Regions from separate parts of the Homo sapiens genome. Here regions 1, 2, 3 and 5 are each linked to region 4. The links come from fine-mapping of genetic effects on gene expression. A gene starts in region 4. Each other region holds a variant in brackets. All regions are shown on one strand. Distances are from middle to middle.

The links. PIP is the estimated chance that this variant, and not a neighbour inherited with it, causes the effect.
Region 1: its variant is fine-mapped to the expression of ERI1 in monocytes after triphosphate RNA (Kim-Hellmuth 2017, PIP 0.95).
Region 2: its variant is fine-mapped to the expression of ERI1 in whole blood (TOPMed, PIP above 0.99).
Region 3: its variant is fine-mapped to the expression of ERI1 in hypothalamus (GTEx, PIP 0.98).
Region 5: its variant is fine-mapped to the expression of ERI1 in blood mononuclear cells (TOPMed, PIP 0.91).

What each region holds. Positions count from the first base shown.
Region 1 is chr8:9,048,505-9,053,610 of GRCh38, forward strand. It overlaps MIR4660 (microRNA 4660), which reads left to right; the gene lies at 1-14. It also overlaps a transcript of ERI1 not described here. Among named protein-coding and RNA genes, the nearest start is that of MIR4660, 2.6 kb to the left of the region's middle. The variant C/CA (reference allele first, on the strand shown) is at 3,153.
Region 2 is chr8:8,969,544-8,974,630 of GRCh38, forward strand. All of the region lies in intron 2 of LOC124901866, which reads left to right. Among named protein-coding and RNA genes, the nearest start is that of ERI1, 31 kb to the right of the region's middle. The variant A/T (reference allele first, on the strand shown) is at 2,321.
Region 3 is chr8:9,191,350-9,196,455 of GRCh38, forward strand. All of the region lies in intron 2 of LOC101929128 (a long non-coding RNA gene), which reads left to right. Among named protein-coding and RNA genes, the nearest start is that of PPP1R3B-DT, 42 kb to the left of the region's middle. The variant A/G (reference allele first, on the strand shown) is at 2,522.
Region 4 is chr8:9,000,237-9,005,322 of GRCh38, forward strand. It overlaps ERI1 (exoribonuclease 1), which reads left to right and starts at 2,661. Exons shown (of 7, transcript NM_153332.4): 1 at 2,661-2,935. The coding sequence starts at 2,828. LOC105379227 (a long non-coding RNA gene) reads right to left here and starts at 2,506. Exons shown (of 3, transcript XR_002956680.2): 1 at 2,425-2,506.
Region 5 is chr8:8,977,688-8,982,793 of GRCh38, forward strand. It overlaps LOC124901866, which reads left to right. Exons shown (of 4, transcript XM_047422504.1): 3 at 1,310-1,518. Among named protein-coding and RNA genes, the nearest start is that of ERI1, 23 kb to the right of the region's middle. RefSeq lists an enhancer at 212-506. The variant C/T (reference allele first, on the strand shown) is at 2,157.

The DNA of each region.
Region 1 (5,106 bases), 48 kb after region 4:
GGGCCTGGTGGAGTGAGGCGTTGCCCAGCTATAAACTGTGGTCACTCTTCTGGTGGGGCCAGCAGATAACAGCTGATGTGTGAAGGAGGCAGGGAAGGACATGGGGAAAAGGTCCAGTGGAAATCAAAGCCCATTGTCATAATTCTGTCCTTTGTTTTGAGACAGGATCTTGCTCCGTTGTCTAGGCTGGAGTGCAGTGGTGCAATCATAGTTGACTGCAGCCTCAATCTCCCTAGCTCAGGTGATCCTCCCACCTCAGCTTCCTGAGTAGCTGGGACCACAGGTACGTGCCCCTGGCTAATTATTATTATTTTTATTTTTAGTGGAGATGGGGTCTTGCTATGTTGCCCAGGCTGGTCTTGAACTCCTGGGCTCAAAAAATCCTCTCCCCTCAGCCTCCCAAAGTGCTGGGATTACAGGCGTGAGCCACCGCGCTCGGCCAGCATTCTGTTCTTTATGCACCCAGTCCAGGATCAAGATAGGTGGAGGTGAGCGAGATGTAAATGCAGCCGTCCACATAAATAATGTTTGAATGCCATCTTTACAAAGGGCAGCTGGGCGCAGTGGCTTACACCTGTAATTCCAGCACTTTGGGAGGTCGAGGTGGGCGGATCACCTGAGGTCAGGAGTTCTCAAGCTTGGCCAACATGGTGAAACCCCGTCTCTACTAAAAATACAAAAATTTGCCCGGCGTGGTGGCGGGAGCCTGTAATCCCAGCTACTCAGGAGACTGAGGCAGGAGAATCGCTTGAACTGAGGAGGCAGAGCTTGCAGTGAGCCGAGAGCACGCCACTGTACTCCAGCCTGGGCGACAGAGTGAGACTCCGTCTCCAAAAAAAAAAAAAAAAAAAAAAAAAAAAAGAGCAACATTAATGCAAAAAAATTAATGGTGAAAAAAAAATGTCAAGTATTGAAATATGGATAGCATCTGACAGGGTTGCTGAGGTTGGGGTGAAGGGAGTGCGGGGAGTCCTGCAACTAGACCTTTGGATCTTGTCTTTATTTGAATTTTGTGGATTTTTTGGCATTAATTTTGACTTTAAAAAAAAAAGCATGAAAATATTATTTTTCTTAAATTGTGTGCCTAACAGTGAGTCCCAATAAATACTTCCTTTAGGAAATACTTAAAGGAGTTAAACAACTTTTGACTTGCTGATCCTTCTGCATTGAGGGAGGAGACATCTCAGAAGCATGCCCTTTGAAAAGTATCAGAATACTAGGCATCCTCCTGTGCCTCCCACAACCCCCGCAAAAAAGAATACTAGCCCTCCCAAAGGCCGGATGGGATTTCTGCATCAAAGAGAAGACATCAACGGAGAGATAACCTAGTCATTCAGAGGCCGCAGGTGAGGAGAGAGGGACAGTGGACAGCAATGCCCAGAGAAGGCAATTTGAGTGCATGACCATCAGCCCATGCCAAGGGCAGCCTGCAGAGTTCCTCCCTCTGTTGATTCATTTGGCTAGGATGAGTTCTAGACCTGAACACGTCCTCCCCATCATACAGGATTACCCACTGTTACCTTGGTAAATTAACCTGTTTAACCTTCGGCTCCCTGGTCTGTAAGATAGAACTAATACTATACCCCTCACAGTGATGTTTTAAGGATAAGTGAGGTAGAATATATATAAAGCACTTTACAGAGTGCCTGGTACATTCTAAGTGGTCAAAAAAAAAAAAAAAGATAGCTATTTTCGCCTTACTATTAGATTTTCTAGGTCAAGGCTGGGCGCAGTGCCTCACACCTATAATTCTAGCACTTTGGGAGGCAGGGGCTGGTGGATCACTTGAGGTCAGGAGTTCGAGACCACCCTGGCCAACATGGTGAAACCCCATCTCTACTAAAAATACAAAATTAGCTGAGCGTGGTGGCACATGCCTGTAATTCCAGCTACTTGGGAGGTTGAGGCAGGAGAATCACTTGAACCTAGGAAGTCGATGTTGCAGTGAGCTGAGACGGTGCCATTACACTCCAGCCTGGGCAACAAGAGTGAAACTCCATCTCAAAAAAAAAAAAAAAAATTCTAGGTCTGTTCTTGAAGCTAGAACAGAAAAAGAGATTTTCTAGGTCTATTCCTGTCTGAGTCCTCATTGGGAACGTTTCACTGCTGACTGATAAGTCACCAGAGTGTAGGCCAAGCCAGTGAGCTTTGATGCGTATTAATATAAAATCTGGGAAATTGTCCCTAAAATGAGTCAGAGTTACGGAAGGAATGGAGAAGCCTGGATTCCGGTCTCAGCTTCAGGACTTGTTAGCTGTGGGAACTTAGGTCTATCCCACCACAACTCCGGGCCTCTTCCTTCTTTATGCAATAAAAATAACAGCATCATTCCTATTGCTCTTCTGCTGTGGGGACCAAAGAGATAATAAGGTGCAAAAGTGACTCAGGGCAGCACCTTTGGATGGAAATGAGCTTTGTTAAGGCGTTGTTCTTTCAGTGGGCTCATTTCTTTGTCTGGGCTGGTTCATCTGGTTCTGATCCTGAACTTAATGATCTTTGGAGGTAGATTCTTTATTCTGGACTTTAAAATGATAGCAGAAAGAATTAGCTGAAAGTAACAAATTATTATTTAAAGTAGGTACGATAGATATTAGTTCTGGTATTAATTATATTACTTTCCCATAGGGAATTGGAGGTATATATGAATATATATATGTATGTATATATGAATATATATATATATGAAAAGGAGTTTATTTCTTACAGTATGGTGGCTGAGAAGTCCACGGTTGAGGGACTGCATCTGGTGAGGGCCTTGTTGCTGGTGGGGACTCTGTGGAGTCCTGAGGTGGCTCACAGCATCACATGGTGAGGGGGCTGAAACTGCTAACATGCTCAAATTGGAGGTGTTTTTAAGAAGCATGACTAAGGGCTGGGCGTGGTGGCTCATGCCTGTAATCTCAGCATTTTGGAAGGCTGAGGCAAGCAGATCCCTTGAGGTCAGGAGTTCGAGAACAGCCTGGCCAACATGGTGAAAGCACATCTCTACTAAAAATACAAAAATAAGCAGGGCATGGTAGCATGCACCTGTAGTTCCAGCTACTTGGGAGGCTAAGGTGGAAGGATCACTTGAACCCAGGAGGCAGATGTTGCAGTGAGCCGAGACTGTACCACTGCACTCCAGGCTGGGTGACAGCGCTGAGACCCTGTCT[C/CA]AAAAAAAAAAAAAGAAGCACGACTAAGGGAAACGCCTTCCTCTTGGTCCTGCCTAGAACCACTTCTTTAGTTTTTCTGAGTTTGTATGTTTAGATCTTTGTAAGTGTCCTATGTAGTTATACATTTTCCTTGATTATGAGTTTGAATGATCACTTCCTTTTCTCAGGCGAATGCACTCACTTATGAGAATTTTCAGTCATTTGGACTATAATTGCTTAAACTTCAGACTGTAGCTGCAGAGTCGTTTTGTAGCCATCCTTAGAGAGTGAGTATGGTGTAAGGATTGAGAGCCCAGGCTCAGATGCCATGCCACAAAATAAGTGACCTTGCTCTGTTAAACGGGGGCATGCCAGCCCAGATCTCATAGGGTCGTAGTGAGAAATGAAAGAATTAATGTTTATAAAGTGCTTAAAATAGTGTTTAGTGAATAATAACCCTTCAGTAAATGTTAGCCGTTATTGTACTGACCCTATTTGTGTTAGCTCTTATTACACGGGTCTGCCCAAGGCTGAAACTTGGGGCTTATCCTCTATGGGACGTTTTCTGTGAGTTTCAGCTACTGCTCCTAGTACACTTCCTGGCAGTGTTTTTGTCTCTCTCTGTGTTCTATTTCTCTGCTTTCTTCCATTCTTCCGTGTCCATGGAAAGGACTAGATATACTTTTTTTTTTTCCAATAAATCCCCTTTAAGCAAAATTGAGTCAGGCGTCTCTTGCTACCAAAAGAACTGGACAAACTCCACTAGTTTGAGAACAGTCACCTCCTATTCTGGTGCTGATTGGTTGAACTCGCCTAGAGCACTGAGTCTCTGGGATTCTGGCAAGGTACCGTCACTGACACCAGCAGCATTCTGGGTAAGCAGCATATACCACTATTACCCGTGAACGAATCAAGGAACATGCTAGGTGCACACGTATGAAGGGACATCTTTTGCACACAGAACTGGGGCACAGTTGGCAAGGAGGTTAAATATGTTAACTTCAGGATACATTTAGGGAAACTGCAATCAAGAGATTTACCCAGAAAACACATTTCAGAACTATGGTATAATAAAAAATATGTTTGGTCTTTATCCCTGACTCCTGGCACTGAGCATCAAAGACCCTTGGAAATTTCCGAGTGGTTCGAATGTCTGTTGTTATACATGAATCCTTTCTGATCATAACTAAGTTTATGCTATTGAGGTGAATCAAGGTGGGCCCTTAAATAGTTTCAGGAGAGAGGCTGGCCACACTACAAAGACCAAGCTTATGATTAGAGGGTTGGAACTTTTGGCTCCACCCCTCAACCTCTGGAGAGAAGAGGGGAACTGGAGATTGAGTTCAATCACTAGTGGCTAATGATTTATTTATTTTTGTTTTTGTTTTTGTTTTTGTTTGAGACGGAGTCTTGCTCTGTCACCCAGGCTGGAGTGCAATGGCGCAATCTCAGCAGACTGCAACCTCTGCCTCCCGGGTTCAAGAGATTCTCCTGCCTCAGCCTCCAGAATAGCTGGGACCACAGGCATGCACTACCACACCTGGCTAATTTTCATATTTTTAGTAGAGATGGGGTTTTGCCATGTTGGCCCCACTGGTCTCGAACTCCTGACCTCAAGTGGTCCGCCTGCCTTGGCCTCTCAAATTGCTGGGATTATAGGCAAGAGCCACCGCGCCCAGCCAGTGGCTAATGATTTAGCTGATCATGCCTAAGTCATGACACCTCAATAAAAACTCTTGAGCAACAAGCTTCCAGGAGCTTCTGGGTTGATAAGCTCATGATGTGCTGGGAGGATGGCATGCCCAGAGAGGGAATGGAAGCTCCACAGCCCAGCCACTAGCCCCATACCTCGTCCTACACGTCTCTTCCATTTGGCTGTTCTTGAGTCGTATCCTTTATGGGAAACTGTATGTGAATCATCAATACAGTGCTTTGTTGAGTTCTATGAGTCACCGTAGTCTGTTAATGAACCTGA
Region 2 (5,087 bases), 31 kb before region 4:
CTTGGTTGGGTGTGGTGGCTCATGCTTGTAATCTCAACACTTTGGTATGCTGAGATGGGAGGATTGCTTGATTGAGCCCAGGAGTTCAAGAGCAGCCTGAGCAACATAACAACACCCAGTCTCTACCAAAAATTTTGTAAATTAGCTGGGCATAGGGCATGTGACTGTACTCCCAGGAGGCTGAGCTGTACTTATTCATAGAGGGTCTTGCCTGCAAGTTGTCCAGGTTAATGGCATTTTTGAACAAAGAATTGGACAAAATGCACAGCAAAGCAAGGAAAGAATGAAACAAAGAAAGCAGAGATTTATTGAAAGTAAAAGTACACTTCGCAGTGTGGGAGCAGTTGGAGCAGCAGCTCAAGGGCCCAGATGCAGAATCTTCTTGGGTTCAAATACCCCCTAGAGGTTTCCCATTGGCCACTTGGTGTTCACCTCATGTAAATGGAGCGGTGGCTCACAATCAGTGTGATTGGTTACGGACAGTAACCGATCAGAGGCTGAAGTGAAGTTACAAAGGTCACACTCCTATGCACACATCTGATTGGTCTCGCAAAGCTAACAATCAGAGGGTAAAGCGAAGTTACAAAGTTGCTCTTCTATGCAAACCAAGACTTGGCTGGCAATCAGAGATTGGTCTTGGAAAGCTAACAGTCAGAGGCTAAAGTAAAGTTTCAAAGTTACACTCCTATGCAAACGTCTGATTGGTTGCAATCAGAGGTACTTTCAATTTCCCATCTGCCCGAGCAGAAAAGACGGGTTTGCAAAGGGAGTAGCCTCTGGTCCTTGTCACTTAGGTGTGGAAAGTTAGGGTTTTCCTTCCAGGGCCTATTGTTCTACCTCAGGAAGACTGATTGAGCTAAAGAGCGAGGCTGCTTTGAGCCATGATCACGCCACTGCACTCAAGCCTGGGTGACAAAGCAAGACCCTGCCTAGCAAAAAAAAAGAAAAAGAAAAAGATATAACTCTTTCTCCAACAGGAACATTATGAATTTTATTCACTGACTTGAGATTTGAGTCCAAGAAGGAAGGTGAAGTTGCTGAAAAACCAGACTCACTTAAAAGTCAAAAGCCGAGCCAGGCATAGTGGCTCACACCTGTAATCCCAGCATTGTGGGAGGCCAAAGTAGTTGGATCACCTGAGGTCAGGAGTTCAAGACCAGCCTGGCCAACATGGTGAAAACGCGTCTCTACTAAAAATACAAAAATTAGCCTGTCATGGTGACAGGTGCCTGTAATCCCAACTACTTGGAAGTCTGAGAATTGCTTGAACCCGAGAGGTGGAGGTTGCAGTGAGCTGAGATCACACCATTTCACTCCAGCCTGGGTGACAAGAATGAAACTCCGTCTAAAAAAAAAAAAGAAAAAAGAAACAAAAAAGTCTAAAGCTGGTAAACTAATCCCAATGAGAAGCTTGGCATTGAAATGATGAGTTTATTCACAGAGAAAAAGAGCAAAGTCTCCAAAAGTTTTCTAGGCATTTTATAACTGAGCTGGCCCCAAGTGCAGGTGCAGGAGCTCTTAGAAGCTCAGCCACGGGGAATAACACTGCAGGAAATACATGTCCAGGGATGAGCTGAATGAAATGGGTGGGATGGGATCCAGTATCCCATCTCTTCAACTTCGAACAGCTGCCCGCCTGTAGAAACCGTTGCAAGCTAGCTTGAGGACAGTATCCCTTCTGCAGGGCTGCATGCCGTTTGCTTGTCTGGCAATCCCATAACTCATAGGCAGATGCTGTATGCCATATACCAAATAGCAAAGTGGAGATGTGCAGGGTAGGAAAACTGGATTGCGAGGAAGGAGATGAGGCAATCATTCTCAACCTTGGCTGCACGACAGAATCTCTCGGGAAGACTTTATAAAATATGAATGCCAGGGCCCATTCCTATGGTGTTCTTTTTTTCTTGATAAATGTTAGCAATGGTTTTATTAGTCTTATGTCCTTGCTTTTGTGTACTATCTGTCCCCAGGGAGATTATTTTTGAGAATTACCCCTAAATTTTCATTGTTTTCTCCCTTCAAATTCAGTGCTTGTGAGACACATTATGAAAAAGAGAAGCGACTCCGCGTTTGTTTAATGCATTGCTTCCTCCACTTAACCTCTTGCTTATTGGAGCTAAAAGCAGATTCTGTAGTCCTTATCCCCTAGTGGCTCTAATCCCCACTCTCCTAACCAGGAATTTACCATTGTAGTTTCAATGCAATGGCCGTTTCATTTTCTTTTTCCATCCTAATCCAGTAGTTAGCTTAACTTGCTCTACAGTGAAATACACGCATGGTATTCTGACTTAATTGACCGAGTGCATGACCCTGGCATCAA[A/T]AATTTTTAAAGGCTGATAAGGTGATTCTAATGTGCATTTGGGGTGGAGAATACCAATCTGGCAGCTGGAAACAAAAGAAGAGTGAACATTTTCCCACTGGGCGCTTCCAGAAAGTAATTAAATACATATAAGTGCTGGGAAAAAAGGAGGCTAAGTCCTGAGATATTAACTAGTTATATGATGTTGAGCTGGCTATCTTATCTAAGACTCAGTGTCATCTTTAAAAGGAGGGAAACTATAGCACCAGCCATATACAGGTGTGAAGATTAAATGAGCTAGTATGTGTAAATCACTTAGCATGGTGCTTGACAGTGCCCAACAGACAGGCCCAAGGCATAGTGGCTCATGCATGTGGTCCCAGCGCTTTGGGAAGCTGAGGCAGTAGGTTCGTTTGAGCCCAGGAGGTTGAGGCTGCAGTGAGCCATGATCGTGCCACTGCATTCCAGCCTGGGAGACAGAGAGAGACTGCATCCCCCCCAAAAAAAAAAAAAAAACAGTTGGCTGGGCACGGTGGTTCATGCCTGTAATCCCAGCATTTTGGGAGGCCGAGGTGGGCGGATCACCAAGGTCAAGAGTTCAAGACCGGCCTGACCAACATGGCAAAACCCCGCCTCTACTAAAAATACAAAAATTAGGCTGGGCACTATGGCTCATGCCTGTAATCTCAGTACTTTGGGAGGCCAAGGCGGGTGGATCACAAGGTCAGGAGATCAAGATCGTCCTTGCCAACATGGTGAAATCCCATCTCTACTAAAAATACAAAAATTAGCCATGCGTGGCTGTGCACACCTGTAGTCCCAGCTACTTGGGAGACTGAGGCAGGAGAATTGCTTGAACTCGGGAGGTAGAGGTTGCAGTGAGCCAAGATTATGCCACTGCACTCCGGCCTGGGCGACAGAGCAATACTCCTTCTCAAAAACAAACAAACAAAGTGCCCAGTAAATGACTGGTGTTTCGTCATCATCCTCATTGTCATTTTAGAGAATAAAAACATTGGATTAGAAGTTTATATACAACATATTTGCCTCCATAAATAAGTGCAAATTCTGAAATTCAAAGCAAAAAATTTTTTAAAAATCATTTTATATTTGCTGAGAGCTTTTCCTTTGAACATAGATTGGGGGAGGCAGTTTCATGGATTTCCATGTTCATAACTGGATCTGTCCCCAGTCTTTTTCTGGCATTCCCAGCCTTGAACCGCGTCTTGTTAATCCTCCTCCACAAAAGCCCATACTAGCTTTTATTTATTTTCTCTCAGAATATTCCATGTCTATAATTTCTGTTGATTTATGCTCTATAAATACTAATTCCAGACTTGTGTAGCCAGCACTTTCTGGCCCCAAGCGCTCCACAAAATGGACTCAGATTGTCTTCTTGTATAACGCACAGTCTACCAGTTTGGTGAAAGGTGATAAAGTGATCTGTGGAGCTCAGATGGAAAGAAGCGTCTGGGAGAGCCAGGCTCCTAATCACTTAAATCCTTTCCAAACGTGGGGAGGGGGGTGGTGCGAGGGAGAATGAGAGCAGACAAAGCTGGCTGTCATTGCTATGATTAGGCTTTCGCTCTAAGCCTCCAGAGAGTTGTGAGCTGGGGTAAATGATGTGAAGGATTCATTTCGCCTGGATAGAGATAGGCTCAAGGAGCTGCACCAGTAAAAGTGGGATGAACGGCGTCTTAGACTCCCTTTCCTCTAAGCCCAGCGCAAGCCACAGCCTCGTGAACAGCTCAATGTAATAAGACAAATCCAAGGAAAAAGAAGGAATACGCTTCCTCCTGAGAGCTAGATTGGAGTGTCTCTAATCCCCTCAAACTGTTATCTGTCAGGAATCTTATTTGTGAGCAACAGAATCCAACTCCAATAACTTTGGAAGGAAGAAATTTAGCAGAAGGCTATTCAGGAGCTCCGGCTCGTGCTGAGCAGATGGGAGAAGCAGGCTTAAAGTCAAAGCTTTGGTGGCAGGCAGGAGCAGAAGTCAGTCAGTGAGGACACCAGTGCAGTGGGCATTGGACACAAGACCACAATGCTCACCATGGCTGATGCTGGCACGAGATAGTGGTTGCTGATGCAGGCATCGCTACCTCTGCACTTGGGAACTTGCCAGTACTCCCCCATCTGCCACCAACCACCTATCCGTGGTTTCGCCACCACCCACCTATCCGTGGTTTCTCCACCACCCTGCTTCCTGGGATGCAGCAACCCCCAAACAGATGCAGTTTTGGGCCAGCGTTATGGAAGAGAAAGCAAATCCCCCAAATGTCTGAATCACAAACACAGAGACCTCACCCCCGTGACAGTGGAAACAAATGCCCTGGCCTCTGACCCCTACAGATCCGCGTTCCTGCCCCTAAACGGTGCAGTGAGGGGAGAGCTGGGCTGCAGAACAGGTGGAGAGAAGAACGTGGTGTGTCCCCTAGGGGTCAGTGCTAGGACATATTGTCTCCAGGGTCTCGTGCCTTTCTGTTTGGTTGAGGGCAACATTTCTCAGAAGTATGTGGATACCTGGGATTTTAAGAGGGTATCATGGCAACTCTTTCACTCTCTAGTTTTAGAGGTGATCTTGACAAATGTCTCTCACCTGAGAGCCTTTGAGTATGTACCAACTAACCATATGGAGCAATTGGGGGATCAGATAAAAAGGCTGATGACACGGTCACTCTATTGAGTTAGCACCAGCTGAGCACAACAGCCCACCATGTTGTCTCTGACTACCATGGAGCATGGCAGGCTGCTTGTTGTCACCCCACATCCATTTTCCCCTTCTTCA
Region 3 (5,106 bases), 190 kb after region 4:
CTTCCTCTTGTGACCTGGTTTCTCTCTCCATCTCCATGCTCTGTCCCCACTGCATCCCCTGGACCCTGGAGATCTTCCTTTTTTTTATCCGCCTAGTTGCTTGCGATAGGGGCTGCTCCCTGCACCAGAGGCCCCAGGTAACACAGGCAGGTCTCTAAGACATGCTACTTAGCTTTTGTTTTCAGTTTCCATCTTGACTTCTTAAATTGCTGATATTATCACTGTCAAAAAACAAATACAAAGATATTATAAACTGATTCCAAGTCATATCATGTTTTGAAAGGAACACATGGCCGTGTGTAAGCCTTTCCACCTCCCCCTGTGTTCTTAGTTCATTTCTTGTGCCCTTAGTTCATGACTTGTGCTCTTAGTTCCTGTCTACCACATCCCATAGTGCCCTATCCCTGATTTTGTTCCAAGTGTCCCTAGCAGTGTCCCCTAGCAGTGTGCCTCATTTGTGGCTAAATGTGCCTCTGTGCTTGGAACAAACCTTTAAGTTCACCTTTCAGAACCTGACAGATTGGAGCTACCATCCTCAAGTACTTGCTTTATATCGTCATCAGCATTATTGGGCAGCTCTTTTTCTTGGATACAGATTTCTTACCCTCTAGAAGACTGTTGTTTTAGAACATTACATCTGAAATCCAATCTGGAGATTTTGATTCAGTGGGTCTGGGATGGGGCCCAGGAATTTGTAGTTTTAACAAGTATCTCGGGTGATCATTATCAGGAAAGTCTGGAAAACCCTGCCTTACAACTTTCCTGTTCTCTTTCCTGCCTCATTCACATAGACCTGCTAAGTATTTGCTGGACGTGCAAACAACCTTTGTAATGACTCTGTAGGCTTCCATTTGACAGAGTTTGAATATAATATGGTAATTTTGAACCCTCATAATCTTTTAAAGATAGAGTTTTACCAAATCAATCATTCTGTATTGACAGTTTTAATTCATTGCTTGTTCCTGCATGAACTTCTCATTGTGGAACGGTTAAGATATCTACTTTAAAAAAAAAATCTGGAATTTAGTTTGAATTTCTCATTGTGAAGCAACTACAATATCTACTTTTTAAAAATATTATTTATTTATTTATTTTTTTGAGACGGAGTCTCACTCTGTCGCCCAGGCTGGAGTGCAGTGGCGCAGTCTCGGCTCACTGCAAGCTCCACCTCCTGGGTTCACGCCATTCTCCTGCCTCAGCCTCCAAAGTAGCTGGGACCAGAGGCTCCCGCCACCACGCCCGGCTAATTTTTCTGTATTTTTTAGTGGAGACGGGACGATATCTACTTTTTTAAAAAATCTGGAATTTAGTTTGTTAGAAAAATCTGATTCTGCCGGGCTTGGTGGCTCACACCTATATCCCAGCACTTTCGGAGGCCGAGGCGGGTGGATCATGAGGTCAGGAGATCGAGACCATCCTGGCTAACACAGTGAAACCCCGTCTCTACTAAAAATACAAAAAAATTAGCCGGGTGTGGTGGCAGGCGCCTGTAGTCCGAGGTGCTCCGGAGGCTGAGGCAGGAGAAGGCGTGAACCTGGGAGGTGGAGCTTGCAGTAAGCCGAGATCTCGCCACTGCCCTCCAGCCTGGGCGACAGAGAGAGACTCCGTCTCAAAAAAATAAATAAATAAAGAAGATTCTTAGCAGCTAGTTAGAGTAGCAATTAAAGTTCTTGATTTTTTTAATTTGTTCCTTTTAATTAAAAATTTTAGGGAAGGGAGAAATGAGGAGTTCTTTCATGGGTAAGTTGTTCATGGGTAAGAATTTCAATTTTGCAAGATGAGAAGAATTCTAGAGATTGGTTGTACAACATCGTGAATACATTTAACACTGCCAAATTGTACACTTAAAAATGCCTAACGTGGTACATTTTATGTTATGCAGATTTTATCGCAATATTTTAAAAATCGGGGGAAGTGTCCACAGGTTTATGGTCTAGATAGCTGTCAGAAAATGAATATGAGTACCTACCATGTAACCAGGCACTATGCTAACAGCTTTCTGCCTTTTTCAGTAGAGTAGGTTATTTAATTCTTTTAACAGTGCTGTCTTTATTTCACAGATTGGGAAGGAGAAAGTCACTTGACTCACAGGCCAACTGCTATGGACTGAATTGTGTCTTCCCCTCATTAATATGTTGAAACCCTATCCTCCCTCCAATGTGATGGTATTTGCAGATGGGGCTTTTGGGAAGTAATGAAGTTTAGATGAGGCATGAGGGCTGGATGGATATGATCAGATGAGTGCCCAAAGAAGAGACACCAGAGAGCTAGCTTCTTCTTTCTCTTTCCACCTTTACACACTGAGAAAAGGCCAAGTGAGCACACACCAAGAAGGCAGCCATCTGCAAACCCAAGGAGAGAGTCCTCACTAGACACCCTGCTGGTACCTTGATCTTGGACTTCTAGCCTCCAGAACTGTGAGAAATAAATTCCTGTTGTTCAAGCTAGTATTAATACCTGGTGTTTTGTTATGGCAGCCTAAGTGACTAAGACACCAACTTAATTTACTTAGCCAGGGTCA[A/G]TCAGTGGTAGGGCCCAGGATTCTGACCCAGTTCTGCCTAACTCCACAATTCATGCTTTTTCTGGATATAAACATCTGCCTTCCCAGTTTCCCTGACTCTTAGAGCCGTGGAGCAGTGTGTGTCATGTGCTGCACACCCAGGCTGGAACAGCCTGTCTCCAGGTAGGTCTCTGCATAGTGTGTGACTCCATGGGGACCTCTATGCGGCCCCAGTCTTGTGAGCTGATAAAATTTATATTGGTAGCTTGGCAAATTTAACGCCTACCTCCAACAACTCTTCAGGAATGTGGGACTCTCTAAAGGGATTCATTTGCAGAGACAGAAGCCTTGGTGTGGGATGTGTTACTGTACAGTTTGTACAGTTTGCTAAACCCCTCAGCCAATACGGTTTCTATAACTGGTGCCCCCCCCACAGTTCGCTGGGGTTCACTGTTGTGCAGGTGATAGCTCCAGGTGTTGGGAATCCCTGATGAAGCCTTAGCTGGCAATGGCTGAAGGCGATATCTCTGAGATGTCCGGTCAGGACCTTCCTCTCTGTTGCCATGGCTGTGTCTCACTGCCGCGCCTCTCCTCTGTTCCCTGCAGGGTAGAGTCTGGATGCTTTTATCGACATATTGGAGTTTTTCTACTAAGTGCAGAAACGTCTCTAGATCTGAGCACAGTCACATCAAGCTTAGATTTTAATGTCCTGGTTTCATTAATTTCTATTTCAGTTATTCCAGGGGCTGCTCTCCCTCACTGGGTTCTTTTCAGATGTGTACAATGGCTAGAACTTCTTTCTGTTCTTGCTGCAATATGCCAGCCGCATTTCCTTTTACACGGGCGTCTCCTTTTGTCTCCTGTCTGTGGGTACTGCAGTAGCAAAAGGGGCAATCTGTGGTCTTTTCTCCATAACCCCTCCTGCAGAGAACAACTTTCAGGCTGGGGGTTTCCTGAAACATAGATTGCACTGGACAGAAGGACTTAACATGTCTTTGTTGCACCCTAAAACATGACCTTTAGTTTCTCTCTGCTTAGAATCTATATGCTGTGCCACGATTTTTCTACCATGATTTTATCTTGTAGAATTCACTTTACCTCTCTGGGTTCCAAGTCCTCATTTATTAAATGAAGATCCCATTCTAAGATTGTGCCAATTTTCCTATTTCCAAATTCATCAGCACCGAGAGTGCCTGTCCTTACTGTGGAGGTCTGGCGATAGAGAGCAGGTTCTCCCTGCAATATTGACACAGGCCCGCCTCTGCTGTGGGGGCCTGAACACTGGCATCCCTAGCTTCTCCTCGGGGCCAAAGATGACTTGAGCCTTCCCAGTGGAGGTAGAAGCTGGAGCTTCCTTTCAGGAAGTGGCTCATAGTGACAGACTCAAAGATCAGGAGGGTCTTGTAGTTCCATCATGTTGACAAGGATTATAGGAGCTGTAATTATACAAGCTGCCCCAAAGTCCTGATTTCAGTCCTCATTAAGTCCCGACTTCTAAAATGAGGTTAAAATTATATCATAAGGGCTGGGCGCGGTGGCTCACGCCTGTAATCCCAGCACTTTGGGAAGCTGAGGTGGGTGGATCACTTGAGGTCAGGAGTTCGAGACCAGCCGGGCCAACAGAGTGAAACCTCATCTCTACCAAAGACACAAAACTTAGCCAGGCATGGTGGTACATGACTGTAATCACAGCTACTGGGGAGGCTGAGGCAGGAGAAGTGCTTGAACCCAAGAGGCAGAGGTTGCAGTGGGCTGAGATCGTGCCTTTGCCCTCCAGCCTAGGCGAAGAAGTGAGATTTTGTTAAAAAAAAAAAATAAAAATAAATATATATATATTAGGCTTGGCATCTTGGCATGGTGGCTCACACCTATAATCCCAGCACTTTGGGAGGCCAAGGTAGGAGGATCCCTTCAGGCCAAGAGTTTGAGACTGGCCTGGGCAACGTAGTGAGACCCCATCTCTAAAACCAAAAATTAGCTAGGCATGGTGGTGCATGCCTGAAGTCCCAGCTACTTGGGAGGCTGAGGTGGGAAGATTGCTTGAGCTCAGGAGTTTGAGGTTATAGTGAGCTATGATCATACTACTGCACTCCAGCCTAGGTGACAGAGTGAGACCCTGTCTCTAAATAAAAATAAAATAATAAATCAATTGTATCATAAAAAACTAAACTTGCCCTCACATAACTCTCTCTTCTGCTGACAATCAATACTTTCTTAGACAACGTTTTCTTCAGTTCCAGCTGGCTTTTGAGGAGCAAATTTTTCTCCCCATAGAGTTTTAAGAAATGCTTCCTCAGCAAATTGAGAAGAAGAAAGTAAAGCAAATGTTTTCTCTAAGTGACTCCTTCCCAAATTCTAGTTTAAGAGCCTTTGTAAATCAGATGGAAGCTTTAGAAAAATGGCAGCAGATAAAAGCCTGCAGGATGACTCCAAAGTAGTCAAAGCCACCTAAACACGTGCATTGATGATGGGTGTGCCTATGTTATAGGTCCCATGGATCCCTGGGAGACTCAGGAAGGAGTCAGTTCTCAGTTATAGAATGTTAGAGACCACTTAGGCTTTATTTTATTATTATTATTGAGATGGGGTCTCACTCTGTCACCCAG
Region 4 (5,086 bases):
TGGAGGTATGTATGGTTAGAAAGGGCTACTTAACCCCATCAAAGATTATTGTTATTGGAATTATGCCCTATCTCAATTGCCTATTTAACAAAGCAAATAATCTAGAATGGGCAAGACTTAAGACAATTATGATTGGTTACTAAGTGTTCACTTAACTTCCAAACTGGCATATCTTCTGAGTAGATGGATTCAGCACAACTTCAATTCTATGCTCCTGGGTTGCAATCCTCAAACTTGGACCAAATAAACTCTCTAGTTATATTAATTTTGCCTCAGCTTCTACCTTTTAGGTCAATAGTATTAAGCCTCTTCAAGTGGTCCTGAAGTATTAAGCCTCTTTAAGTGGTTACTGAAGCTGTATTCATCTTTTTTCTGTGTGTGTGTGTGTCATTTTGTATTGTTTCTGTTGCTATATCTTTGAATTTATTTACCTTTTTCTCTGCATTGCTTAATGCGCTAGCAATCCCATCCAAAGAAATTTTTATTTCAAATATTTTTCACCTCCATCCAGAAATTTGATTTTTCAAAAATCTTTCCAGTTTCTCTCCTATCATGTCTTCCTTTAAATCTTTGAGCATATTCATAACAGGTGTTTAAAATCCTTGTCTGTTAATTCCATCATTTTTATCATTTTGGGGTTTGTTTCTATGAACTTCGTGAGATATTTTCTTACCACTTGGTCTCTCTCTCTCTCTTTTGAGACAGAGTCTTACCCTGTCACCCAGGCTGGGTTGTGGTGGTGCAATCATAGGTCACTGCAGCCTCAAACTCCTGGGCTCAAGCAATCCTCCCGCCTCAGCATCCCCAAGTGCTGCGTGTCTTTCAATTTTTGACTGGATGTCTCACATTTTGAATTTAATGTTGTTGAATCCTGGATTTTACTGTAGTCTTTCAGAGAGTTTTAGAATTTGTTCTTACAGGTAATTAGGTTACTTACAGAGCAGTTTGATCCTTTCAGGGCTTGTTTTAAGGCTTTTGAAGAATCTACAGTAGTTTATGTTCTGGGTCCTGCAGTCTACGGTTATTATATCTCACTAAGGCATGACACTTTCGTAACCACCCAAAAGGTTCATCTTGCCTACTGCCTAGACAGAGTCGATTTATCAAGACAGGGGAATTGCAATAAAGAGCAATTCATGCAGAGCTGGCAGTGCAGGAGACCTGAGTTTTATTAATCAAATCAGTCTCCCTGAGCATTTGGGGATCAGAGTTTTTAAGGATAATTGGGTGGGTGAGAAGCCAGTGAGATGGGAGTGGTGACTGGTTGGGTAGGAGATGAAATCATAGGGAGTCGATGCTGTCCTCTTGCACTGAGTCAGTTCCTCCCGTGGGGGACACAAAATCAGATGAGCTAGTTTATCCAAGATCAGGTGAGTCAGTTTATCAATCTGGGAGGTGCCAGCTGATCCATCAAGTGCAGGGCCTGCAAAATATCTCAAGCACTGATCTTAGATTTTACAATAGTGATATTATCCCCAGGAGCAATTTGGAGAGGGTTAGAATCTTGTAGCCTTCAGCTGCATGAGTCCTAAATCATAATTTCTAATCTTTCGGCTAATTTACTAGTCCTACAAAAGCAGTCTAGTCTCAAGAAGAGGGTTTATTTTGAGAAAGGGCTATCACCTTTGTTTTAAACTATAAGCTATACACTAAGTTCCTCCCAGTGTTAGTTTGGCCTACGCCTAGGAATGAATAAGGATAGCCTGGAGGTTAAAAGCAAGATGGAGTTGGTTAGGTCTGATCTCTTTCACTGTCTCAATGATAATTTTGCAATGGCAGTTTCACATCTGAGGTTTCTATTGCGTGTTCCATGGTATTCAATAATCTCTTCACTCTGGTTGCTGGGAGCTCAAATGATTCCCAGTTCTGTGTGACCTCTCACCATTGTTTGGTGTACTGCTCCCCAGTAATTGTTCTTTCCTGGCCTTGTGGAGTTTCACGTTTTTTATTCAGTTAAAGATTCAAGGTACTCCTAAGCAGATTTCTGAAGCTCTTTTTCCATGTAATTCCCTCCTCTCCAGAATTCTGCCCTACAAATTCCAACCGACTTGGCCTACCCCAATTTCGTCAACTCCAATCTCTGTCTTTTCAACCCAGGAGATCCTAGGTTTCCATATGATTTCCTTTCATCGCACCACAGACTGGAAATCGCCTCTGGGCAAAAGGGCAGGATGATATACGGCTCCTTTTATTTCTTTTCTCTCAGGTAAAACAGTCCACAGCTGTCCGTTGTCCAATGTCTGAATAGGTGTCTCCTATATTTTGTTCCGTTTTCTAATTGTTTATAGTGGGACACTAAGTCCCGACCCATTTTCTTTTCTTGCCCAGAGTGGAAGTTTTAGGAAACTCCTTATGGAAAATGTGAATTGTTTTATTATTTTTTATGGTCGAAAACATCTTTCTCTATGATATCTTCCCACTCACCCTACTTTTTTCCTTCTCAGGAAACACTGACGGGAACACACGTGCCGGTGCTACCCTCCAGTGACTGGACTAGATCCTTGCGCAACTTCAACCCGCGCTAGCTCCGCCTACGGCCGGCCACGCCCCGTCTTCTCACCGGCGCGCCTCCCTCTTGTTCGTCCTCCCTCCCCCTGTGGACTGCGGCGCTGGCGTTCCGCGCACGCCGGCTCACTGCGCCTGCCCGGCGTGTGGACGCCACACGCTCCCGGAAGTGGGAGGTGGCCGCTGGAGTTTGTGTGGCCGCCGCCGCGGGAACGCGAGCCCGGTAATTTTTCAACGGAGAAAGGCGAGGCTTTCGGGCTCTGCAGAGTGAGAGTTAGCAAGTGTCCGGCTCCAGCAACTCTCCTCTGGCGTGACAGCCGGCATGGAGGATCCACAGAGTAAAGAGCCTGCCGGCGAGGCCGTGGCTCTCGCGCTGCTGGAGTCGCCGCGGCCGGAGGGCGGGGAGGAGCCGCCGCGTCCCAGTCCCGAGGTGAGGAGTCGACCCGCGCCTGGCTGTTGGCGCCAGCTGCCCCGTCCCCAAAGCGCCCTCGGCACCCCTTTCTTCTCAGGTGTCCCGCAGAAGGTGCAGCTGTGCGCCCTTGGACCCCAGCCTCTTCCTCGGTGCCCAGCTCCCTGGCTTTATCCTCGGGTGGGTGTCTTGGAGCCCCCTCAGGGCCGAATCACTCTCTGGGAGGGAGGAAATCGTCAAGACCAGTTCTGTCTACAGTGGGTTAACAGGTTCTAAGAGGGAGTTTTGCTTTAAACTTAATTCTGTGTTCACGGTTGCTGTTGTCACTCCATGTAGCCGTTATGGGTAGTTTGCAAGGCTTTATGTTTTTAAAATCTCACCATATACGCTAGGTATGTCACTTCATGCCTGTTTTTAAAAAAAGAAAAAATTTAAAAAGCACTCACCAGCATCCCTGTCTCTGTACCTGTTAAGTGGAGCTTCGTCTTAGCTGCTTTTGCTCATTAACTGGTGTCTCATATAACCATAGTATAAGATTGAATGAATCATTTTGACATCTCATCGGTTGAACTTAGTTACAGTGGCAAAGTTGTAGAACAGTCTTAAAACTTATTTAACGAATGTTAATTGTTGACTAGCGCTGCGGATTGTAAGTGATTGAATACTAAAATTGATCTTTTCCTAATAATAAACATGTTGAACACTTCGTAAAGCTTCATAAAGTGCGTATTTGCAAGAGGCCTCCTAACTCTTGCTCCTTCCGTCCACAGTCAGTTTCCATCTGGCAGCTAGAATGAGCTTTTCAATAACATGAATTTGGCTTATTCCCCTCCTGAGTCACTTCCATTTGCTGCTCTGCGGGGTCGGGTGCCTGCCTCCCTTGGTAATTGCATCTCACACAGTTTTTTCCCTTTTGTTCCCAGTGCCCCTCGCTGCCTTGTGTTCTTTGACATTGGAAAGAAGGTCTCGTTAAGGATCTCTGTATGTTCCTTTTGCCCTGTGTGCACTTCCTTTGGATCCTTGCAATTATCTTTCTCCTTCTAAGGTTGTTATTTCAAAGAGTACTTGCACATCCCTTCTCTTGTAAAGAACCACTCTTCCACCTGCCTCCCTCTTCAGCCTGAGATACGTTGTCAATCTCATCCTGTAAGTGGGTTTTAAAATAAATTTCGAAGTTTATTTTTAGTAAAAGAAGTGTGTTTGAATATGCTTCTTTATATTTGAAAGTCTTGACACTTTTACAGCTACTTAAGGCCTAGGTCTCTGTTCCAAATTGGCTTTAGTGACGGTAGTAATTGTTAAAAACTTACTGTTGCATGCTCTTTATAGTGATACTTTTTTTTTTTTTTTTTTTTTTTTTTACAAAAAGCCGGTCGTAGTTGCCCTCTCCCGTAGTCCCAGCTACTGGGGAGGCTCAGTGGGGAGGATCACCTGAGCCCATGGGTGGAGGCTGCAGTGAGCTGTGATCGTGCCACTGCACTCCAACCTGGGTGACAGAGTGAGACCCTGTCTCAAAAAATAATAGTAATGATACTTTTTTTTTTTTTTTTTTGGAGACGGAGTTTCGTTCTTGTTGCCCAGTCTGGAGTGCAATGGCATGGTCTCAGCTTACTGCAACCTCCCGCCTCCCGGATTCAAGTGATTCTCGTGCCTCAGCCTCCCTAGTAGCTGGGATTACAGGAACCCACCACCACGCTTGGCTAGTTTTTGTATTTTTAGTAGAGATGGGGTTTCACCATGTTGGCCATGCTGGTCTGGAACTCCTGACCTCAGGTGATCCGCCCACCTCGGCCTCCCAAAGTGCTGGGATTACAGGCAATGAGCCACTGCGCCTGGCCATGATACAGTGTTTTTCAATCTGGGCCAAAGTTTTTTGTTGAATTCAGGTGGTAAATTTCCATTATCTCTAATGCTAGTTGTCTTTGTAAACTAGTAGAAGCTATTGCATATTTATATTTTTAATAAGTAGGTTCAGATTTCATCAGAACTCTCCTTTTGGAAGAACGTCAATCAAGAAAAATTCTAAGTTTTTTTTCAGTGTGCAGATGCAGAGGTTTTCCTTTTCTTTTTTTAAAAGGTAGTACCTAGATTTTTGGCAGCAGAATAATAGCATTTCCAGAACATGTTTTCAAAATGTTCTCTATACAGAAAAAGTTTTATTTGACAAGCAGT
Region 5 (5,106 bases), 23 kb before region 4:
ATAGTATGTATCAATTGTTAAGTGGGAAAAAAACTAAATGTTTCTATATATTTTAAATATTACTACACATTATATAAAAGTGAACTCATATGCTAATTGAAAATACACTTTATACTTGAAATTACTTAATATTGTATGCCCTGCAAAGTTGATAGAATTTTTTTTAGTTGTCTTTTTGCATCCCTTGGCTATGCTATAATGCGGCTTTGAGGATCAAATAAGGAGCTTGAGAGCATTGAAAGTACCACCAAGTTGAGAGGGGGAAGACCTCATATGCAGGAGAGGATTAACTTTGCCCATACAGGGGTCTGGCCTTTGCCCTCAGCTCCTGGAAGATAATCTCTAAACCACTGGAATATCCTGCTTGATAAGAATGTTTACCTGAGGACTTTGGAACAAGCTCCATAACCTATGCTAACAATGTAATCGATAATGCAGGCTTTGGGCCACACAGCTCCAGCTCAGCCTCCGGAAGGGCTGGAAACTGACCATGTCGATGTGACAGAACCCCAGTAAAAACTGTGGACATTGAGGCTCAGGTGAGCTTCTCTGGGTGGCAATTCATGCATATCCTCACACATCACTGCTGAGTTAGTTCTCCACTGGGAAAGAACAACTGGAAGCTTTGCACGTGGAGCTCTCCTGGACTCTTCCCCATATGCCTCTTCCCTCAGTTTATTTATTTATTTAGAGACAGAGTTTCACTCTTGTCGCCCAGGCTGGAGTGCAGTGGCGCAATCTCAGCTCACTGTAACCTCTGCCTCCCAGGTTCAAGCAATTCTCCTGCCTCAGCCTCCCAAGTAGCTAGAATTACAAGCATGTGCCACCACCAGCACACCTGGCTAATTTTTTTGTGTTTTTGTAGAGATGAAGTTTCACCATTTTGGCCAGGCTGGTCTCGAACTCCTGACCTCAGGTGATCTGCCTGCCTTGGCCTCCCAAAGTGCTGGGATTACAGGTGTGAGCCACCACGCCCCGCCCCCTCAGCTGATTTAAATTTGCATTCTTTCACTGTGATAAGCCACAACTGTGAGTATAACAGCTTTCAGTGAGTTCTGTGAGTCCTTCCAACAGATTGTCAAATCTGTGGGTGGTCTTGAGGATCCCTGAACTTGCAGTTAGTATCTGAAGTGAAAGTGGCCTTGGGGCCTCCTGAACTTCACGCCTGGCTTCTAGTCCTGACTGCCCCTAACTCTAGTTATCAACAAATCTCCATTTGCCTCCAAGCCACAGTGTCTGCTGGTTCTCTGCCAAACTCCCACCCTTCTCTGCCTTCCTTTGTGTCATTGCCTATGTTCCCTAACTCCAGGGGAAGATGAGCAGGTGCGAGACAGGGAGAAGCCATCCTACTTCTGGCTCCAGCGGCAGCGGTACCAGTGACTGTATACAACAGGGGGCCCGAGAAGCATCTGAGGCTCCAGCGGAGACACAGGATTGGCTTCCGCTCCCCAGCAGTGGGGACGTCTCCAGACATTCAGCAGCTCCAGCCCGGGGACTGCTGCAGCTTCTACCCTCTGGGTAACACCCCTCTTCTCTCTTTTGCTCTTCTAGCATACCCCACACCTTTGTCAACATCCCCTGAATTAATTCTCTCTCTGCGTTCAGTTTTCCTGAAAGGGGAAATCCCCCTTTTCTGTATAAGGGGAATAATAATAATTGTATCTGTTCTCTGTATCACTCAGAGCTGTTGTGAGCATCCACTGCTAATGGTTGATTGGTTGCTTTAAGGTTAATAAAGAATCACCTAATTTCACACTATTATGATCATGCAAATAGGGGCGTTTGCATCACAAAACAAGTATCGAGTAGGGAGGAGATTCTCTGGAACCTAGAACAAAGACAGGAAATATATTTTAAAATATTCTTACTGTATTATGATGCATTTAAGCCTTGTAGTCAAATCCCAGCTTTACCATTTATTGTCTGTGTGGCCTTAGGCAAGTTGCTGAAGTTCTCTGTGTTTTATTTCCTCATCTGTGAAATGAAGATAACAATGGACCTACCTCACTGGGTTTCTGTGGGGATTAAATACAATAACTCATACATGACCAAAAGGTTGTATAAGCAATATTCATGGGCCATGATAAGAAACCACCTTTATTTTGTTTCTCATTGTTTATTTAAAATTTCTTCAGCAGGAGAAACTCTTTTCCTGC[C/T]CCTAAATGTGAAATCAGGTGGTTCTCTAATGCTTCTGACCATCCTTAGGTAATAAAAAGTTCTACAACCACATTAAGTTGCAAAACACACTCTCATTTCTAGATTTAGAATGTCACATCCCATGTAATAATAAAAGCTTCCAGTTTTAGGGAAAGTTCCCCCTAGCTGGGGTCTTTTGCTACGGAGCCAGGTTTAGGGGGTATGATTCTCTTCTAGACGGTCACCTTACCCCTGCAGTCCCAATTTGATAACCATAGTTTCTCATCAATTGAAGTGGGTTAGGTTGGGTTAGGACAGAAAAGGTTAGGGTGTGGCCAGAAACCTTCACCTTAAGTGACACTCTTGTAGGCTATGTTCTCACTTTCTGGGTTTGGCAAATGGTTAAAGGTGACCTTTTCTTCCTGGTGCTTCAGATTTCACCGTGACTTTCAACTGTGCTTCCCATGTTGAGGGCAATGTATTTGCTCCTGGTTGCTTTTCTCTCAGCCGTGTGTGTGTGTGTGTGGGTGTGTGTGTGTGTGTGTGTGTGTGTGCGTGTGCGTGCGTGCATGCATGTGTGTGTGTAGCTATCCACCGTGCACAGAATCTCTGTTGAAGACCCCTGTTCTTCCAGGCGTCCCTTGACCAGAGTTTAAACAAGCTCCAAGCCATCCTCCTCTCCCTCATGGTCCACACTTGAATTTTTTGTCCTGACATACTTTGGGAGTGCAAGCTGACCTCAGTGCAGAAGGAACTCTCCTTCACCCTGTTAATGTCTTTTCCAGACTGCCCTTCTCTCTTGACCTCTAGATTCTCTGGATGCAAGTCAGACTGTAGTCTACTGTGCTTCCACCTCCCAGGGGACACAAACCAAGCTCTACTCGGTCCTAGTAAAGTCTCTCTTGACCTGACATGAAGAGGAGGCATCCCTACCAGTCCCCATTGCTGCATGTGATAAAGGACCCATACAGCACCTCTTTCTAGACACAGTTTCTTCAATTTTTTTCCCTCAGTTTCAACTTTTTAATATATAGCCATGTATCACTTAATGACAGGGATACTTCTGAGAAATGCATTGTTACATGATCTCATCATTGTGCGAACATCATAGAGGGCACGCACACAAACATAGATGATCTAGCCTACAACACACCTAGGCCATGTGGGACAGCCTATTGCTCTCAGGCTATGAACGTGCACAGCATGCGATTGCACTGAAAACTGTGAGCAATTTCCATACTATTAGTATTTGTATATCTAAGTATATCTGAATATTAAAAAAGGTATACTAAAGCTACAATATTATAATCTCTTGGGACCATCAACGTATGTGCAGTGTGTCATTGACTGAAAAGTCATTATTCACTGCAGGACTGTATTTCTTTTTTGTTTTTGTTTGTTTGAGATGGAGTCTCGCTCCTTTGCTCAGGCTGGAGTGCAGTGGCATGATCTTGGCTCACTGCAGCCTCCGCCGCCCAGGTTCAAGCAATTCTCCTGCCTCATCCTCCTGAGTAGCTGGGATTACAGGCATGCGCTACGCCTGACTGATTTTTGTATTTTTAGTAGAGAAAGGGTTTCACCATGTTGGCCAGGCTGGTCTTGAACTCCTGACCTCAGGTGATCTGCCTCCCTCAGCCTCCCGAAGTGCTGGGATTACAGGCGTGAGCCACTGTGTCCGGGCCAGGACTGTATTTGACTTAGTGGAAGTAGTCCAAAATTGTGTAACTAGTTTTTGACTAAATCCTACTTTATAAGCCCTCTGGGGTGGTCTGTGTGAAAACTCACTTTGGTATTTAGTATCTATTATCCTCATGCCTCAGCCAAACTGGGAAAGAAGGAGCCTCATTTTTACATCTTTTATATGTGAAGAGCACTTAGAACAGTGCTCAATAAATGTTAGCCATTGTTAACTATTGTGAACAGAAAACACAACATGTGGGTAGTTTGAAATAAGCAAGTGGAACCAAAACAAAAGGATCACCCATTATCCTTCTTTCACAGAGAGCTTTAATGAATTCGATATTGTGGGATATCTTTTCTAGCTTACTTTCAGAGTAGAAGAGATTTTCATCTATTTGGAATGGATTAGCTGCCATTCAGCTTAAGCCGAGCAGTGAACTTGTGACCTCTTATTTCAGGTTCATGATGCTTTGAAACTCAGCCACAGGAAGCAAAGATATGGGTGGCAAGGCTGGGCACAATAGCTCACGCTTGTAATCCCAGCACTTAGTGAGGTCGAGGCAGGTGGATTGTTTAAGGCCAGGAGTTCGAGACCAGCCTGAGCAACATAGAGAGACCCCCGTCTCTACAAAACAAACAAAAATAGAACAAAGCAAAAACCAGCCAGATGTGGTGGCTCATGCCCAGCTACTCCAGAGCCTGAGGTAGGAGGATCGCTTGAGCCCAGGAAATTGAGGCTGCGGTGAGCTGTGATTGCACCACTGCACTCCAGCCTGGGTGACAGAGTGAGATACTGTCTCAAAAAAAAAAAAAAAAAAGATATGGATGGCAGCAATTTTGCCCCACATGGGGCCGCAGTGAGTGTATCAGGCCATGGTGTTTCTTGGGAAGGAGAATGCAGCAATGTTAATAGTCAACCTATTTAGAAATACAGCAACTATCATTTCCTTCCACAGGTATAGTAGGGAAACTGAGTGGTGCTGTCCACACGCTTGGAACCATTCCTCCAGGGCTGACTTTTTACAGAAAAAGGCTTATTTTATTTTACTTTATTTTTCAAGACAGTTTCACTCTGTCACCCAGGCTGGAATGCAGTGGCACGATCTCCGCTAACTGCAACCTCCACCTCCCAGGCTCAATCAATCCTTCTGCCTCAGCCTCCTGAGTAGCTGAGACTACAGGCACGCACCACCATGCCTGGCTAACTTTTGTATTTTTAGTAGAGATGTGGTTTTGCCATATTGGCCAGACTAGTCTGGAACTCCTAACCTCAAATGATCCAGCTGTCTC